2 separate regions of the Homo sapiens genome follow, and region 2 is linked to region 1. The links come from fine-mapping of genetic effects on gene expression. A gene starts in region 1. The other region holds a variant in brackets. All regions are shown on one strand. Distances are from middle to middle.

Region 1 (8,000 bases):
TGCGGCAAGGACTAAGCGGTCCCTGCTGTTTGGAGATACTTAAGATGGGGCTCCACTTTTTGAGCCCCCCGACTCCCTTATTTGGTCTTATACTGCCTGTGTGCAAGTCAGGCTCTGGGGATATGGCGCCAGTATGAAATGCAGGGTCTCTTGGTTTTTCCCCTTTTCTAGCAGACAGGTCATTACTTAGTTCCCAACTCCCACTCTAAAGCTCTGGTTAGCGGGTGATGAAAATCAGCACAAGTGATCACATACAGCAATCCCAACCTTTAGACCACTTCCTAGCTGCCTCTCCAAAATATGTAGTAAACGGTCATTGAGAAACTCTCCCTCCTGGTAATTCACAGTGCCCACAGGATCAAGGCTTGGACTTCTTTCTAATAAAAATCTGCTTACTATCCCTTCTTTTTTGCGTATGTGAAAAACAAGTTAATTTAGCTCAGGAAAGTAGTCAATTATCATGTTTATAAGGTTGGGTGGGCTAGGTAAGATGATGTAGAGGGTGACATTAAAGTGTAGAACAGAGACCACTTAGGTGGAAGCAGGCAGCCTTGGACTTTGCTAAAGACCAGTCCATGTGACTGACATGGGGTCACTTCAAATGGTAGTGCCTCCCTCACTGAAGAGCATCAGAAGGGCTTCTGAGCAAGGCCAGAATGAGCCTCGATGAACATCCAAGTTGACCAACCAGTGTGGTGCCTAACAGAGGACAGAGCCACCAGCAGGGGTGCTCAGGGGCTGCTCCCCTTTTATTAATGACAGCGGTTTCTCTCAAGGAAGTGTAGTGCCCTCCCCTTTGGGATAGTTGCCTGACCCCTGTCCATCAGCCCTTCAAGTACCCTCATCAGAAAAAGAGCCCGCGCATTCTCCTGCCGATGCCTTGTCGGTCGTAGAGGACATTGAACTTGTTCACAAACTGGTTCATGGTGTTGCACGTTTTGGTGATGGTGCCGAGGTAGGCCATGAGCCCCACGTCGTTGCATTGCTGGGAGGGAACAGAAAGGACCAGTTCCTCGGGATCCCTCGTGGCATGCCCGGGGAACAACAGTCCCCAGTCCTGCACGTGAAAGTGACAGCATAAGCCCCGCCTCCCCATCCGGGTTTTACACTCACATCATAAAAATCTGTCTTGAACTTGTCTGTGCTGAGCACCGGGAGACAGTGACACAGAGCATAGGCCTCCCGCAGGATCTCATGATTAAAGGGGACCTCTCCTAAAGGCACAAAAAGAGACTACATTAGTTTGGATGCTGTCACTTCCCCAGGAGGGAGAGGAAGAATGCCAGGGAAGCCCCTGTCCTACCCGCTTCAGAGGCCTTGACGTACTCCAAGATGAGCTTGACGCGGCTGTGCAGCATCTTGATGGCGCTGTGCTGTGCTATCAGGTGTTCAGCCACTGCAAGGGGATGAGGACAGGAGGAGGTTGAGACGGGATGTGGCCACACCTTCCAACCCCACTTCCAAGGAATCCCCTCCATTACCAGTGGAGTTCTCTCCACTGCCTGTTGCTGTCATTCGGGCTACGTGGTCTACACCAATGCGTTCCGCTTCCTCTGTGGCCAGAGTGTAGGTCAGCTCAGCAAACAGCATTGTGGCCTACAGGGCAAGGTAACCCACAAAGGGAGAATCAAAAGCAGGAAAGAGGCCAAGAGCAGGATCTGAGGGTTGAAGGGTAGGGTATTACCTCTCCATTGATTATATCAATGACAGACTCAAAAACGCTGACAGGAAGCTGTGAAGGAGACGGAGAAACCTGAACACTATATGCCAACATTTGGGCTAGCTGCTTTTACACATTTCCTCTCATCTTCCCAAGAAACCAATGAAGTAGGGATTACCTCCTTTCACAGTTTGGAGATTAAATGACTAAGCCAGAGTCACAGCTGGTAAGTGGCATCTGGCATTCCCCAATAGAGGAGTGTCACACAGTAAAAGGTATAGCGACAATCATGACAGAGTAGGCATGGAGTATTACTCACATCTGTGTGCTTGGTCATAGGGTTCAACTTCAGAAAGAGGGGGCTCTCGATGATCTCACACACCTGGAAGAGAGGGACAATGCACAGGAAGTCAGTGCCCCCTACCTTTCTCCTTCCCCTCATTCTCCATTCTCTGCCCCAGCATGCACAGGTGTGAGCATGCATACCTGCTTATGGACGTGGATGTCCGAGGGGTCAGGTGGCCCCCCTGTGGTATACCAACCCAGAAACTCCAGCTCCTTGAACACCTGTTTAACTAGAGGGGAAGGGGCCAGAACATATAGTAATTCTTTTTTTTTTTTTTTCTGAGACGGAATCTCGCTCTGTTGCCCAGGCTGGAGTGCAGTGGCATGATCTCAGCTCACCACAACCTCCGCCTCCCAGGTTCAAGCAATTCTCCTGCCTCAGCATCCCGCGTAGCTGGGACTACAGGCACGCACCACCATGCCAGACTAATTTTTGTATTTTTAGTAGAGGTGGGGTTTCACTATGTTTGCCAGGCTGGTCTTGAACTCCTGACCTCATGATCCACCCACCTCGGCCTCCCAAAGTGCTGGGATTAGAGGCATGAGTCACTGAGCCCGGCCTGACATAGTAATTCTTTAAACCATCCTTCCTCAATGTGAAGCTCCTGGTGTATTTTCACCAGCTTCTCTCCTCCCTCCTCAAATCCTGGCTCAGTTTAGAATAACTACTCCCTTCTATCCTGTCTCCTCTCATCCTTTGCTTTCTTTTGAGAAAGAACTCTGAACGTTTTCTTTTTCTGAGATCTCTCCAGCTACTCTTCACTTTTTCTCCCCTGTTCTTGGTCTCCTCTCCTGTTTCTTTCCAACCCTCTCCATCTTCCCCACCCTGTACATTTTTTTTTTAACTCCCACTCCTCTTCCCCACATCTATTCCACTCTCACACTGCTCCTCCTTGGTGTAATAATATTCCTTGTCAATGATAATCTTCTCTTCCACGGTGTGGGACAGCAGCTCAAAGGAGTTCATCACCTCGATATTTCGGCCCTCCTGCTTGCCAATCAGAGCCCCAATCACTGGGAAAGAGAATGACATGGAAAAGGTGAGGGTAAAGAAACTTCTATGACCTGAGGGTCTGAGATCAGTGGGAACCATGTATTGGGGAAACGATGATTTGGGGGAGGGGGAATTGGCTCCAGTAGAGGAAGGGGAAAAGACCACTGCCTGGGGGAGGTGAGCAAGGAGAAGAGACTGGAGTCTATGCCCAACACTCACCCTGCACAGGCCGCCCCTCCTGGGAGCGCATGCGGATCCAGTGGTCTGAGATGTTGAGAATGACAAGGGGATGGAGAGCGACGGAAACACTCCCAGTCACTCCGCAGGCCATCACGCTGGGGACTACTAAGGGTGGAGGGAAAGGAGAGAGGGTGAGAGTCCGGGCCCCACGTTCTTCCCTGGAGATGGCAGTGGGGGACGGCGGAGCCCGGGCCACACTTTCCTCCCGTAACTTATCCCAGGGAAAGATGTTGCTGCTCCGCCCTCCTCCCTTCTCCCGGGAGCACAGGGAGGCCTCAACGAACCCCTGAAGGAGGTCTCCGGAAGCCACCCCCGCACGGCCCGTTACCTGCTGCATCCACCTCCATCCCGCTGCTTCCTCCGGTCCCGTTCGTAGCTGCAGCCGCCGCCGCCGCCGCCGCCATTTTCCCCGCGCCCGCCAGCCTCGGCCCCGCCCCCTTCCTTCCCGGCTTCCGTAAGGCGAGCGGCGCATGTTCGGTGTCCCCGCGGCGTGCGGCGGGCCTGGCGTCCGGGGAGCAGGCAGTTCCCGGGTCGCGGCGGGCGGCACTCGGTGCGGGGACGCCCGACGCCCTCTGGGCCTCGGTGCCTAGCGGGTTTTCCCAGACCCTGTCCCCGCCTGTCGCCTGCGGGTGACCTTTGACAAATTAACGACTTGATCGTCCTCGTCTGTGAAATTGGGATAAGAACGCCTAGTTCTTAAGGCTGTTGCAGAAGGAATGACATGTCGTGTTATTTCCCTCACAATAAAATCCAAACAACTAACCACAACCTGCAAGGCCCTGCCTGATCTGGCCCCGGCCTGGCCTCTTCTAGCCCTTGATCTTCAGGCTTCAGCTGCACTGGCCCTCATGTCTGGTGGTGGTGGTGGTTTGTTTTGTTTTGTTTGAGACAGGGTCTCGCTCTGTCGCCCAGGCTGGAGTGCAGTGGCCTGATGTCAGCTCACTGCACCCTCAAACTCCTGGGCTCAAGTGATCCTCCCAGTTCAGCCTCCCGAGTAGCTGGGACTACAGGCGCACCCCACCGCACCCAGCTAATTTTATTATTTGTTTTTATTTTGATAGAGACGGGGGTCTCACTAGGTTGTCCAGGCTGGTCTCCAACTCCCGGGCAGAAGAGATCCTCCATCCTCAGCCTCCCAAAGCACTGGGATTACAGGCATGAGCCACCGCACCCAGCTCTCCGTGTGTTTTTCACATGCTTTAGTTTCCCATTCAAAAGCCTGTGGTTCCTTCTCTTGTTCATCATGGTATCCCCTGTGACCAACACGGTGCCTGACACATTGGAGCCTAGATACTTTTTGAGTGAATGAAGGAATAATTAGGGGTGGAATCTGGTGTTGAGTTAGTTGCTCCATCTTGTGAAAGTTGCAGATACCAGGACAAAATCACATTGTCAGGTCCAAACAAATTGGAGCCATGAGAACACCAAGGAGAAGGTCTCATGCTTGCATGTCTGAGATAGGAATTATCTCAAGGACTTTCGAAAATAACCCCACAAGGCCAGGCATGGTGGCTCACACCTGTAATACCAGCATTTTGGGAGACCGAGGCCAGACAATCACTTGAGGTCAGCAGTTTGAGACGAGCCTAGCCAACATGGTGAAACCCCATCTCTACTAAAAATACAAAAATTAGCCAGGCGTGGTGGCAGGCGCCTGTAATCCCAGCTACTCAGGAGCCTGAGGCAGGAGAATTGCTTGAACCCGGGAGGTGGAAGCTGCAGTGAGCTGCGATCGCGCCACTGCACTCCAGCCCGGGCAAGACAAAGTGAGACTCCATCTCAAAAAAAAAAAAAAAAGAAAGAAAGAAAGAAAGAAAGAAGATAACTCCACAAGGCCAGGCATGGTGACTCACGCCTGTAATCCTAGCACTTTGGGAGGCCAAGGTTGGAGGATCACTTGAACCCAGGAGTTTGAGACCAGCCTTGGCAACATGGTGACACCTTGTTTCAACAAAACATGGAAACAAAATTCGCTGGGTATGGTAGAGGCATGCCGAGGAAATTTATGCTTGGGAAGTGAGTCAAAACTCCCTTCCTTTTTGTTCCCAGATAGCTGTAATTCCACAACCCTGTGTCATAGCCTCATACATAAGCCAGGCTCCTACAATGGCAAAAGGCATATACCTCCCCAGATGGTCTTCCTCACAAATTGCTTGCCAGGAAATTCCTCATTAGCCTCTGAATCTTTCAGCATAAACATTCCCCCTATAAACCAGCCCTAATCCGAGTTCTGTGAAATCTCATACTGACAATGTTGATTACAAGCTTATCTTCCCAATTATAGAACAAGGAAGAGACCAGGAATCATCCCTCCACCTATCCTGAGACAGATGCATAACTGACTTTTTCCTCCACTCCCTCTTTTCAAATGTTTATTGTATCTTACATAAAATGTAGATTTACTGAACACTAATGAGAAACTCACAAAAAAGTAACAATGTGCAGCAGGGTGTGCAGTGGCTCATGCCTGTAATCGCAGCACTTTGGGAAGCGAGTGGATCACTTGAGGCCAGGAGTTCAAGACCAGCCTGGCCAACATGGCAAAACCCCATCTTTACTAAAAATACAAAAATTAGCTGGGTGTGGTGGTGCCCACCTGTAATCTCAGCTACTTGGGAGGCTGAGGCAGGAGAATCACTTGAGCCTAGGAGGTGGAGATTGCAGTGAGCCGAGATGGACCCACTGGACTCCAGCCTGGGCAACAGATTGAGACTCTATTTCAAAAAATAAAATAAAATAACCATTTGCTGGACTGGGTGCAGTGGCTCACGCCTGTAATCCCAGCACTTTGGGAGGCCGAGGCAGGCAGATCACAAGGTCAAGAGATTGAGACTATCCTGGCTAACACTGTGAAACCCCGTCTCTACTAAAAATACAAAATATTAGCTGGGCATGGTGACACGCACCTGTAGTACCAGCTACTTGGGAGGCTGAGGCACAAGAATCGCTTGAACCTGGGAGGCAGCGGTTGCAGTGAGCCGAGATTGCGCCACTGCACTCCAGCCTGCTGACAGAGCGAGACACTGTCTTAAGAAAAACAAAACAAAACAAAACAAAAAACATTTGCCTCACTGCCTCTCCTTCTTCCTTATTTTCCTCTTGCATGCTTTCTTCCCTTAAATACTGAGTTCCTGGCCAGGCACAGTGGCTTATGCTTGTAATCTCAGCACTTTGGGAGGCCGAGGTGGGTGAATCACCTGAAGTCAGGAGTTCAAGACCAGCCTGGTCTCGACCAGTAGAGATGGTGAAACCCCATCTCTACTAAAAATACAAAAATTAGCCAGGCGTGGTGGTGCATGCCTGTAATCCCAGCTACTCGAGAGGCTGAGGGAGGAGAATCACTTGAACCCGGGAGGCGGAGGTTGCAGCGAGCCGAGATCACACCACCACACTCCAGCCTGGTTGACAAAGCAAGACTCTGTCTCATAAAAAAACCCAAAATTCACATCTGGCTAGCCTAGGCTGCTCCACCCCCTCCTTACCCCTAAACCTAAGCAAGTTGCACACACTGCTCCTCCTGCCACCCCTACAAAGAGGGGTACAGACACCTAGAAAGAGCCAGACATACTCTGGCTCTAGGTGTCTGTATCCCCACCCAAAGTGTAAGCTCCTAGAAAGCAGGTGAAGAACTGTGTTATGACCCTGAACAGCCCCATATGGTGATAGTTGTAATTTACAGGGGAATTATGCAATCTCTCCGTTTAGGAGCCTGGATGAAGGAAACTTGAAGGGGCCAGCAACCCTCAATGGAACGGACTTGAGAAATCCTGCAGGAAGAGGGGTCTTCTCGCCAAAGGGAAGTTAAAAAGGAATTTATTTTATTCTAGTCCCCAGTGATAAACCAACCAGGTCTGGACAAACTGAGAGGGTTGTCAAAGAAAAGTACCTAATGCCTTGTTTCTATTTGGAAAAACCAGGTCAGAAAAATGTATCTCTTTGGTGAGATGTTGGCTCACTGCAACCTCCACCTCCTGGGTTCAAGTGATTCTTGTGCCTCAGCCTCCCAAGTAGCTGAGATATCAGGCTTGCGCCACCACACCTGGCTCATTTTTGTATTTTTAGTAGAGATGGGTTTTCAGCATGTTGGCTAGTCAGTTCTCAGACTCCTGGCCTCAACCGATCCACCTGCCTCGGCCTCCTAAAGTGCTAGGATTACAGGTGTGAGCCACCGTGCCTGGCCAGAAAAATGTCTCTCTTTAAAGAATGCTAGGCAGCTTCCAAGGAGCATAGTGCTTCTCAGCTAGATAGAAGGCTAAAATAAAAACAAGATGAGAATTATTCTAGGGTTAGTAAAGTTGATCGTTTGCACTGCTCTCTCACACATTAAAGAACTCCTTTGCCTTGTTGTTTCAGGTGCTTTTGAAACATTGTTCAGATAATTATACAGCTCATAAAACAAGAGATTATTGTGGAATTTAAGGATGACTTTGACATTGAATCAGTTGATTGTGCGCATTTTAGAACTAAGTTTGCTAAACGTTTCTTTTTTTTTGTTTTTGTTTTGTTTTGTGTTTGTTATTGTTGTTTTTGAGACAGAGTCTTGCTCTGTCACCCAGGCTGGAGTGCAGTGTTACAATCACAATTCAGTGCAGCCTCAACCTCCTGAACTCAAGTGACTGTCCCATCTCAGCCTCCCAAGTAGCTGGGACTGCAAATGCGTGCCACCACGCCAGGCTAAATTTTGTATTTTTTGTAGAGATAGAGTTTCGCCATATTTGTTTGTCTCAAAACAAACAAACAAACAAACCAAAAAAATATCCC
Region 2 (11,748 bases), 31 kb before region 1:
TGTATTTTTGGTAGAGACGAGGTTTCTCCATGTTGGCCAGGCTGCTCTCGAACTCCTACACTCAGGTGATCCGCCTGCCTCGGCCTCCCAAAGTGCTAGGATTACAGGTGTGAGTCACTGCGCCCAGCCTCCAGGCTGGTCTTGACCTTTTGGACTCAAGTGATCCTCCCATCTCCACCTCTGCAGTAACTGGGACTACAGGCGCTGCACCACCAGCCCTGCAGTCTTCTTTGTGTGTGTGTGTGTGTGTAGAATTGGGGTTTCACTATGTTGCTCAGGCTGGAGCTTGAGCTTAACAAGACAGCGGCCATTCTGGGTGCTGCCTCATCGACCAGCTAGCTATGTGTGCCCGGCTGTTGTTTGAAACTTTGGGCCCAGCTAGTTTTTAGAAAAAAAGAAAAAAGTTTAATAGCGATATAGAAAATTGAGCACCTATAAAACTATATGGTGGGCTCTGGGTTACATTGAGCTTAAGTAGACCAAGTATCTATCCCACCTAAATTATCAGCAACTCCAGGCCATGACCCAGTGTCCCATTCTCCTTCACGGTTTGCTGGTGTGTAGCCTCCTGGATACAGGCAATGTATATAGATCGCAGAGAATGTCCGTTCTGGCCTCTTCCTTGGAAGGGTCTAAAAACAGACCTTAAGGAGCTAAGTGACTTCCCCAAAGCCCACAGCTCCAGTGCCACTGCTGACTTTTGGGTGGGGGTGGGATCAGTTAAAGAGGAAAGCTTTCAGTACTGTCAGCACATACACCTGCCAATTAAGGGGCTGGATAGAGTTCATCTCTAGGAGCAGGACCTCCACCCCCACCCTCCACCCCAGAAGCCATGTCATGCTGTTTCACCAGGATCTTGCCTGAGGTTAGATGGGAGAGAACAGCTACAAGCTTGGGTGGAGTCACTCATAAACACACCCTGAAAGCTGTGGAGCAGGGAGAGTGCAGGCTTTAGAGGGCTCTCCATGATCCCTTCCCCTCCTGGGGGCTCAAAGGCAAGGGTCAAAGATCTTCTCGGTCAAGTTTGGGGTGGCTTCCTGTCTTGGTCATCTTGTCTCCCCCTTCCTCTTCCTCCTCTTCCTCCTCCTCCTCCTGCTCTTCCTCCCCTTCTGTTTTCTCTTCCCCATCTGTGATCTCCTTTCCAGTCCAAGTTTCCTGTAGACATGCTAGATCGGATGACAGAAAACAATTTAGATATTAGTCCTGGAGGCAGGGGAGGCTATGGCTTGGCAGGAGAGGAGTTCAACCCTTACGCTTACCAGTTTCAGCAGCTGGGAGCACATGACCTTCACAGAGAAAATTTTGTAGGGGCTGCTCCTGATGGTGGAAGTACCAGTCTCCCACAATGTCTTCAAACTCCTCCAACATGGTCTCACACTGGTCAAGTAGAAGGGCCAGAAGAGTATCTGCTCTGGAGGGATTTGGGATCCCGCCTGTCTTCTCTCCCTGCTCAACCTGACTGATTTTGGAGAGGCAGGTAGCCAGGAAGCTAAGTTTGGCCTACTAGATGTGCAATCCTCATTCATTCAACAAACATTTACCAGCACCTATTCTGCCAAGTAGATTATTAAACTCTTGAGTCTCAGCTCCTTGCCTGTAAAATATGTATGGTAATTGCACCTACCACATCAGGCTGTTAAGGGTAAAATGAGGCTACAGATGCAAAGTATCTGGTCCAGAGTCTGGGACACAGTAGGTGCTCAATAAGTGATGGTGGATATCATTAGCAACCATTGTTACTTTTTTTTTTTTTTGAGATGGAGTCTCGCTCTGTCACCCAGGCTGGACTGCAGTGGTGGGATCTCAGCTCACTGCAACCTCCGCCTCCCGGGTTCAAGTGATTCTCCTGCCTCAGCTTCCTGAGTAGCTGGGACTACAGATGCATGCCACCACACCACCACGCCCGGCTAATTCTTGTATTTTTAGTAGAGACAGGGTTTCACTATGATGGCCCGGCTGGTCTTGAACCCCTGATGTCGTGATCCGCCTGTCTCGCCCTCCCAAAGTGCTGGGATTACATACGTGAGCCATCGCACCTGGCCCATTATTACTTTTTAAAAATTTTCCTTAAGGCAGGGCCCAATGGCTCATGCCTGTAATCCCAGCACTTTGGGAGGCCAAGGCGGGTGGATCACCTGAGGTCAGGAGTTCGACCAGCCTGGCCAACATGATGAAACCCCGTCTCTACTAAAATTACAAAAAATTAGCTGGGCGTGGTGGCAGGGGCCTGTAATCCCAGCTACTCGGGAGGCTGAAGCAGGAGAATGGCTTGAACCCGGGAGGCGGAGGTCGCGGTGAGCCGAGATGGTGCCGGTGCACTCCAGCCTGGGCAATAAGAGTGAAACTCCGTCTTGAAAAAAAAAATTCTTTAAAATTATTATTATTTGTAGAGAAGGGGGTCTCTTATGTTGCACAAGCTGGTCTCTAACTCTGGTCTCAAACAGTCCTTCTCCCTCAGACTCACTAAGTGCTAGCATTACAGTTGTGAGCCACTCCACCCGGCTCATTATGATTTCTTTTTTTTTGTTTTTGTTTTTGTTTTTTTTTTTAAGATGGAGTCTTGCTCTGTCGCCCTGGCTGGAGTGCAATGGTGCGATCTTGGCTCATGGCAACCTCCACCTCCTGGATTCAAGCAATTCTCTTGCCTCAGCCTCCCAAGTAGCTGGGATCACAGGCGTGCACCACCACGCCCAGCTAACTTTTGTGTTTTTATTAAAGACGGGGTTTTGCCTTGTTGGCCAGGCTGGTCTCGAACTTATGACCTCAGGTGATCCACCTGCCTCAGCCTCCCAAATTGCTGGGATTACAGGTGTGAGCCACCGCACCCCACCGCTCCTGGACCCACTTTAATCAATGGCACAGTCCTCACTCTGGCCCCTTCCCCATGCTTAGGGGTAGACATCCCCTATAGTCAAACCCTAGAACCTAGCTCCCCTCTCAGGTTCCCTTCTCACCTCCCTGGATGGTGCAGTGTCTTATCCTACCTGCTTCTTGAGGTATGTGACCTCCACGCTGGGCTCATCCCAAAGCTCCAGAGGGATCCCCAGATCCACCTTCACCCCCTTCTGCACTAGGCCTTTCAGTGTTGCCATGGTCTGACTCTGACCCTGAGAGATTAAGAATTTGGCATCAGCCCAGCTCACCACCCCACCCCTCCCTTCCCCTTTCTGCCATTTCAGTTTTGTCAACTACTGGAGATTCAAGGGTGAGTTCCATGATGGTGAGATGATGGGCAGATAACCTCTGGAGGGCCTCAGGGGATACAGATCTTTGTATCTGAGAAGTGGGGTCCTGCCCTGGGGAAGGGTCTGACCTTGGCATATCTCAGTGAGCCCTTGCGCTCAGCGTGAACACTATAGTCCAGGATCCGCTCACATAAATTCTCTAAGGCCTCTTCCAGCCTTGTCTCTCTGTGGAAAGAGAGGAAACAAAGATTCCCTGGATGCTGTAGGAACTCCCAGGGCTCCGTTGGGGGTTGGAAAGGGGAGGAGCACGAAGGACTCACGAAACGCTGTAAGGCACGTGTCTCTTCCTCTTGCCTGTATCCAGCACCTGCCCCAGCTCCAGCACCTCTCGAGATCGACCGGTGCGACTCAGTTCCGCCTGTAGCTCTGTGCTCAGCAGCTTACACACTGGTGGGGAGGAGAAACGTCCGGGGGGAGGTAAAAGACAAACACACCAGCCATTCATTCTGCAGATGACCTGAGGCAGCAGAGCATACAAGTGCAGACTATGGAGCCAGACTGGCTGGGTTGGAATCCTGGCTCAGCCATTTAGCAGCTGTGTGGCAATCTTCCTGCTTGCTGTGCCTCGGTTTCTTCATCTTTTTTTTTTTTTTTTTCAGACGGACTCTCGCTCTGTCGCCCAGGCTGTAGTGCAGTGGCGCAGTCTCGGCTCACTGCCAGCTCCGCCTCCTGGGTTCACGCCATTCTCCTGCCTCAGTCTCCCGAGTAGCTGGGACTACAGGCACCCACCACCACGCCCGGCTAATTTTTTGTATTTTTAGTAGAGACAGGGTTTCACCGTGTTAGCCAGGATGGTCTCGATCAGCTGACCTTGTGATCCGCCCGCCTTGGCCTCCCAAAGTACTGGGATTACAGG[C/T]GTGAGCCACCACGCCCGGCCGGTTTCTTCATCTTTATAATGGGATAATAGGCCAGGAGTGGTGGCTCACACCTGTAATCCCAGCACTTTGGGAGGCTGAGGCGGGCAGATCACTTGAGGAGTTCAAGACCAGCCTGGCCCACATGGTGAAACCCCATCTCTATTAAAAATACAAAAACTAGCCAGGTGTGGTGGTGCGCACCTGTAATAGCTACTCGGGAAGCTGAGGCAGGAGAATCACTCGAACCCAGGAGGTGGAGGTTGCAGTGAGCTGAGATCCCACCACTGCACCCCAGCCCAGGCAACAAAGGGAGACTCCATCTTAAAAAAAGTAAAATACATTAAAAATAAATAGGCCAGCACAGTGACTCATGCCTGTAATCCCAACACTTTGGGAGGCTGAGGTGGGTGGATCACGAGGTCAAGAGATTGAGACCATCCTGGCCAACATAGTGAAACCTTGTCTCTACTAAAAATACAAAAATTAGCTGGGCATGGTGGCGGGCGCCTGTAATCCCAGCTACTTGGGAGGCTGAGGCAGGAGAATCGCTTGAACCCGGGAGGCGGAGGTTGCAGTGAGCGAGATTGCACCACTGCACTCCAGCCTGGGCAACGGCATGAGACGCTGTCTGAAAAGAGAAAAAAAAAAAAAAAAAAAAAAAAAAAAAAAAAATATATATATATATATATATATATATAAAATTAATACAATTGGATAATAATAGTATGTCCCTCATAGGAGTGTGATGAAGATTAAATAAATCAACATATATAAAGGCTGGCACATAGTGAGCACTGTATAAGTATTCACTGTTATCCTGCAGTTATTTATTGAGCTCCTTCTGTATGCATACTAACAATATAGACAGCAATAAGACCTATTATCTCTATCTACAGGTCTCTGTCAGTGTAGTTGGGACAGATAAACCAAGGATGACAAGCTGTGGTGAAGCTGGGCCTGAACTCATGGGCTCAAGTGATCCTCCCACCTTGGCCTTCCAAAGTGCTGGGATTACAGATGTGAGCCACTGTGCCCAGGCCCGTTGGCTGTATTCTGATAGAAGGCCTGCAGAGGTGTTAAAGCAAGGACTGATACAATTAGGTGATTAAGTCTGTTTAAAAAGATTGACAGGTCAGGGGAGAAGAGCGGCACACGGAGGTGAAAGGAGACAGAGATGAGGACCAAGTCATGAGACTGTCATGACTGCCTTTCATGATACTGGAATACAGTTGAGGGGGTGAAGCGAAGAGAAAAGGAATCCAGGGAAGAAACGTAAAGTCAGGAGGGCAGCAAACTAGGGCATCAGGGCCAGCCCCCTTTCTCAACTGGGCCCCACGCTAGTGCAGCTATGGAAGGCGCTGCTTGCTGAAAAATCCATATAGTACGCACCGTCTGCAAAGTCTCACCGGATGGGGACACTCTCCTAGTTGTGTGGCTTCCTTTTGTTTATGAGCTTCAAAGGCTGAATTACTCACCCTCAAACCCCCTCAGCGGGGTGTGGGGCCTGTAATTTGGGAGCGTCTATGCTAGGGTAGGGCAGCGGATGTCCACAAGGCCTGAGCCTCACACCCGGCTCCTGCAGCCTCTGCAGATTAAGGTCTGGTGACATGAGGTAAACACTCACTGAAGATGCTCTAAAAGTTGGCAGTCCCGGGCCGATGGTCCCTGAACTACAATTCCCACAATCCATTGGCGGGCGGGGGGTTCCAAGCCAGCCAAAAAAATGCAGGCTCTCTCTGGATGCAGTTTGAGGTGGCACTACACGTTCGCTTCCTTGACCCCATCCAAATTCAGCCAAGCTCCACCAGAACCTCCCTCAAGCCTTCAAGGAGGTCGGGTGACCCACCCAATACAGGCTAGGATGTCCGGCCTAGAAGAAGGAGGTGTGGCCGGGCGATGCCTATAGGGGCTACCCCCTTCAAATACCTTCGCATTTGCTGGGCAAGCGTTCTGTGTCATCGTCCTCCTCCTTCAACATCCCAGCCCAAGCCTCGTGCACGGCCAAAAAAAGGAAAAGCAATATTCCCAACCGCACAGGTCCCATGACAAAGCGCCGTCTACAAACAATCACCGCTTGCCTTCAACTTCGGGAAGGTAGTGTGGGTCCCTTAAATTCCCAGGCGGCTAGCGGCAACCTTAAATCCAGCCGAGGAAGGTCGGCGCATGCGCAGGATCAGCCCAACAAGGGTGGGGCCTCGTTGCTACGGGTTTCCCTGCCTCCGTTTTGTGGCGCCTCTTGAAGGTCCTGGCAGCCGGGTAGTGAAGGAATAAATTGCAGTAATTACACCAAGAGGGAGTGCTCCTTATATATAGATGTAGAAACAAACTTTTAAAATATAATTTCATTCTGCGAGCCTAGAGGACTTATTCTGGTACGGGGAAGGGGCAGTGACTTGCTCTTAGGCTCTGCCAGGACCTGCTCCCACGAGGGGGCGGGGCCAAGATGGCGCCGAGCGCCGGGTGAGCAGCGTCTCGGCTGCCGCTAGAGTTTTCCTGCTCCCCGCGCTCGGGTGGCGGGGGCGGGTCTGAGTGGTACCCCGGAGGAGACCCTTTGAAGGTCCCTTGTGGGGACTGGAAAGAGGACGGTTGGTTGTGTGTCTGTGCTCGTGGGGACCCCGTGTGTGTGCCTGCATTGGAGAGATGTTGCAGGAGATGGGGTGGGCTCTCTGAACCTCCTTTCGCGCTGCCCGGGGATCTTCGACCTGCTTCTCTGCTGGGATCTCGCTTAAGTTAACCCTTCCCTGGGACGCCTTCCTGCCGCCTCCACTGATCTGAGGAGATCCTGTGACTGTAGCGTGTTTTATGAGCCTTTACTGGCAGAGGGTACCGCCGGGTATTGAAGGATTCGTAGGAGTTCGCCAGGGAAGTGGGACACGACCCCCTCTTGTAAACCCGGCGCCAGGCACAGAGTATGTCTCGAATAGTTGTGTTCCCTATAGATAAGACTTATAAAAGTCGGGGAGGAGATCAGGGATGGTTTGAAAAGAACCAATTTGTTTTTCGGCCTCCCTCTTCCCATCCTTCCAGCACGGCCCCACCCTACCTGTACTACTCCTAAGCAGTATTGATATGTTAATCTTCCTAATGTCCAACTGCAAGTGTGCCACTTTAATTTTTTTTTGTTTTTTTTTTGAGACAGGGTTTCCGTCTGTTACCCAGGCTGTTGTGCAGTGGCACCATCTTGGCTCACTGCAGCCTCCAACTCCTCAGTTCAAGCGATCCTCCTGCCTCAGCCTCCTAAGTAGCTGGGATGACAGGTTCACACCACCAGGTCCGTCTAATTTTTTAATTTTTGCAGAAATGGGGGTCTCACTATGTTGACCAGGCTGTCTCAAACTCCTGGCCTCAAACAATCCCCCCACCTCTGCCTTCCAAAGTGCTGGGATTACTGGGGTGAGTTACCTCTCTTGGCTCCAATTTGCTTTTTTTTTTTTTTTGAGATGGAGTCTCTCTCTATCGCCCAGGCTGGAGTGCAGTGGCACGATCTCGGTTCACTGCAACCTCCGCTTCCTGGTTCAAGCGGTTCTCCCACCTCAGCCTCCCAGATAGCTGGGACTACAGGCGCCCGCCACCATGTCTGGTTAATTTTTGTGTTTTTACAAAAAGACAGGGTTTCACCATGTTGGCCAGGGTGGTCTCGAACTCCTAACCTCAGGTGATCTTCCCGCCTTGGCCTCCCAAATTACAGGCGTGAGCCACTGCACCTGGCTCCACTTTGCTTTTTTTGTTTTTTTTTTTTTTTTGAGACAGAGTCTGGCTCTGTTGCCCAGGCTGGAGTGCAGTGGTGCGATCTCGGCTCACTGCAAGCTCCGCCTCCCGGGCTCACGCCATTCTCCTGCCTCAGCAGCCTCCCGAGTAGCAGGGACTATAGGTGCCTGCCACCATGCCTGGCTAATTTTTTCTATTTTTTAGTAGAGACGAGGTTTCACCTTGTTAGCCAGGATGGTCTCAATCTCCTGACCTAGTGATCCGCCCGCCTCGGCCTCCCAAAGTGCTGGGATTACAGGCGTGAGCCACCACGGCCGGCCCAGTTTGCTTTTAACTACAGTGTAGGCTCAAAGCTTGGGCCTATGACCTATTAATAATAGTGATACCAAGTATTTACTGAGCACCAATATCTCTAAGCCTTACAACTAATTCATTTACTTCACAAATATTTATGATGTCCCAGGCTGGGCTCCTGGAATACATCAGTGAACATAATAAAGAGCTCTGTCGGCCGGGCACAGTGGCTCACGCCTGTAATCCCAGCACTTTGGGAGGCCAGGGTGGGTGGAACACCTGAGGTCAGGAGTTCAAGACCAGCCTGAGCAACATGGTGAAACCCCATCTCTACTAAAAATACAAAAATTAGCCAGGTGTGGTGGCGCATGCCTGTAATCCCAGCTACGCAGGAGGCTGAGACAGGAGAATTGCTTGAATCTGGGAGGCGGAGGTTGCAGTGAGCCAAGATCGCGCCATTGCTCTCCAGCCTGGACAACAAGAGTGAAACTCTAGCTCAAAAAAAAAAAAAAAAAAAAAGAGCCCTGTCTAGATGGTGGACGGAGACGGGGTCTCACTCTGTTGCCAGGCTGGAGTGCAGTGGCACAACCTCTACTCACTGCAACCTCCACCTCCTGGGTTCAAGCAATTCTCCTGCCTCAGCCTCCCGAGTATCTGGGACTACAGGTGCACATCACCACGCCCAGCTAATTTTTGTATTTTTAGTAGAGATGGGGTTTAACCATGTTGGCCAGGATGGTCTCGATCTCTTGACCTCGTGATCTGCCCACCTCGGCCTCCCAAAGTGTTGGGATTACAGGCGTGAGCCACTGCGCCATGCCCAAAAGATGTTAAATGCTATGGAAAAGAAAAAGTGGGCTGCCCCCACTCTGAGGGCAGAGTGCAGAGTTAAATAGGGTGGTCAGGGTAGGCAGCCAATTAGATATTTGGGAAGAACATTCCAGGCAGAGGGAATGCAGCAAAGGCTATTAAGCAAGTACATACCTGGCAAGTTTAAGGAGCAGCCAGAAGGAATGTATGTGTCTGGATCAAAGTGGAAGAAGGAAGGGCGTTCAGAGATATAATGGGGAGAAGGTAATTTTGAAGGGCTTTGTAGGACATTATAAGGATTTCGTCTGTTTTTTTTGTTGTTGTTGTTGTTGTTTTTGAGAAGAAGTCTTGCTTTGTTGCCCAGGCTGGAGTGCAATGACACAGATCTTTGCTCACTGCAACCTCCGCCTCCCGGGTTCGAGTGATTCTTCTGCCTCAGCCTCCCGAGTAGCTGTGATTACAGGTGCCCGCCACCATGCCCATCTAATTTTTTTATTTTTAGTAGAGATAGGGTTTCACCATGTTGGCCAGGCTGGTCTTGAACTCCTGCCCTCAAGTGATCCGCCCACCTTCGTCTCCCAAAGTGCTAGGATTACAGGCGTGAGCCACTGTGCCTGGCCTGAGATGGGGTTTTGCTATGTTGCCCAGGGTGGTCAGGAATTCCTAAGCCCAAGCAGTCTTCCCACCTCACCCTCCCAAAGTGCACAGATTACAGGCATGAGCTGAGCCACTGCACCTGCCCATTATAAGGATTTCAGGTTTTACTTTATGGCAAGTGGAGAGCCATTATGAGGGTTTGAGCAAAGAAATGACAATCTGCTTTACAGTTTGACAGAAGCATTTTGGCTGCAACGTTAGGAATAGATGTAGAGAAAGGCAAGGGTAGACTCCGGTTGACATTGTTAGGAGGTTTTTGGAGTTACCCAGTGGATAGATGATGGTGACCTGGGCCAAGCAGTGGGAGCAGAGGAGTCAGGTTGGACTACCTGGTGGATTGATTGATTTTTGAGACAGAGTCTCGCTCTGTCGCCAGGCTGGAGTCCAGTGGCACGATCTTGGCTCACTGCAACCTCCACTTCCCAGGTTCAAGTGATTCTCTTGCCTCAGCCTCCCGAGTAGCTGGGACTACAGGTGCGTGCCACCACGCCAAGCTAGTTTTTGTATTTTTAGTAGAGATGGGATTTCACCATGTTGGCCAGGATGGTCTCCATCTCTTGACCTGGTGATCCGTCCGCCTCGGCCTCCCAAAGTGCTGGGATTACAGGTGTGAGCCAACGCGCCCGACCGGATTTATTTTTTTACCTTTTTTTTTTTTTTGAGACAGAGTCCATCTGTCACTGAGGCTGGAGTGCAATGGCGCAATCTCAACTCACTGCAAACTCTACTGCCGAGGCTCAAGTGATTCTCCTGCCTCAGCCTCCCAAGTAGCTGGGATTACAGGCACGCGCCACCATGCCCAGCTAATTTTTGTATTTTTAGTAGAGAAAGGGTTTTACCATGTTGCTCAGGCTGGTCTCGAACTCCTGACCTGAAGTGATCCACCCACCTTGGCCTCCCAAATTGCTGGAATTACAGACGTGAGCCACCGCACCTGGCCTACCTGGTGGATTTGATGTGAAGGCTCAGATAAAGAACAAGTGTCTGGATGGATGGCATTGCTATGAAGATAAGGAAAGCTGAGCCTGGGCCAGACACTTCGGCTCACGCCTTTAATTCCAACACTTTGAGAGGCCAACGCTGGAGGATTGCTTGAGCCCAAAACTTCAAAGTGGTGGGATTGAAGCCCTGAGGTGTAACAGAAAAAGATAAAAATCTGGGCTGGGCCTGGTGGCTCAGGCCTGTAATTCCAACACTTTGGGAGGCCGAAGCAGGAGGACTGCGTGAGCCCAGCAGTTCAAGACCAGCCTGGACAACATAGTGAGACTCTGTCTCTGCCCCTGCCCCTGCAAAAAATTGGCTGTGTGTAGTGGTACACACCTATAGTCCCAGCTACTTGGGAGGCTGAGGTGTGAGGATTGCTTGAGCCTAGGAGCTCCTGGGCTCTATCAGTTTTCCCACCTCTGCCTCCTGAGTAGCTAGAACAACAGCCCTGTGCCTGCATACCCAGCTAATTTTTGTATTTTTTGTACAGATGGGGTCTCACTGTGTTGTCCAGGCTGGTCGTGAACTGCTGGGCTCAAGCGATCCTCCTACCTTGGGCTCCCAGAGTGTTGGAATTACAGGCATGAGCCACTAGGCCCAGTCCAGATTTTTTTTTTTTTTTTCCTGAGACGGAGTCACCCTGGCTGGAGTGCAGTGGCGTGATCTCGGCTCACTGCAACCTCTGCCCTCTGGTTTCAAGTGATTCTCGTGCCTTAGTCTCCCTAGTAGCTGGGATTACAGGTGTGCACTACCACGCCCTGCTAATTTTTGTATTTTTAGTAGAGATGGGGTTTCTCCATGTTGGCCAGGCTGGTCTCGAATTCCTGACCTCAAGTGATCCGCCCGCCTCGTCCTCCCAAAGTGCTGGTGGGATTACAGGCGTGAGCCACTGAACCTGGCCCCAGCCCAGATTTGTATCTTTCTCTGTTACACCTCAGGGCTGACTCACGTGGGGATGGACATAAGACACTCGGAGTTCCTCCCCTGTCTCCACTGTCCTCCCTTTGTTGGCCCTCTCCCTGTGTCTCACGTTTCTTTTTCTTCTGCCTGCCCCGTTCCTCTGCCAGGGTCTCCGTCTCTCCACCGGGGGCTTCATCCTTCCAGGGAGGAGAAGAGGGACTCCAGAATGGCTGAGGAGAAGAAGCTGAAGCTTAGCAACACTGTGCTGCCCTCGGAGTCCATGAAGGTGGTGG

The links.
Region 2: its variant is fine-mapped to the expression of COPS6 in whole blood (INTERVAL, PIP above 0.99).

Annotation. Positions count from the first base shown.
Region 1 is chr7:100,084,634-100,092,633 of GRCh38, reverse strand. It overlaps COPS6 (COP9 signalosome subunit 6), which reads right to left and starts at 3,665. Exons shown (of 10, transcript NM_006833.5): 1 at 3,568-3,665; 2 at 3,219-3,344; 3 at 2,888-3,019; 4 at 2,147-2,235; 5 at 1,980-2,042; 6 at 1,685-1,732; 7 at 1,482-1,596; 8 at 1,304-1,396; 9 at 1,114-1,214; 10 at 447-985. The coding sequence starts at 3,643. The coding sequence ends at 845. RefSeq lists enhancers at 914-1,208, 2,068-3,267, 2,774-3,465, 4,852-5,545 and a silencer at 3,616-3,805.
Region 2 is chr7:100,114,143-100,125,890 of GRCh38, reverse strand. TAF6 (TATA-box binding protein associated factor 6) reads left to right here and starts at 6,533. Exons shown (of 15, transcript NM_139315.3): 1 at 6,533-6,687; 2 at 11,623-11,748. The coding sequence starts at 11,682. CNPY4 (canopy FGF signaling regulator 4) reads right to left here and starts at 6,257. Exons shown (of 6, transcript NM_152755.2): 1 at 6,029-6,257; 2 at 3,506-3,632; 3 at 3,314-3,410; 4 at 2,985-3,107; 5 at 1,260-1,377; 6 at 383-1,166. The coding sequence starts at 6,146. The coding sequence ends at 1,003. RefSeq lists enhancers at 1-354, 5,561-5,630, 6,001-6,220, 6,431-6,580. The variant C/T (reference allele first, on the strand shown) is at 4,102.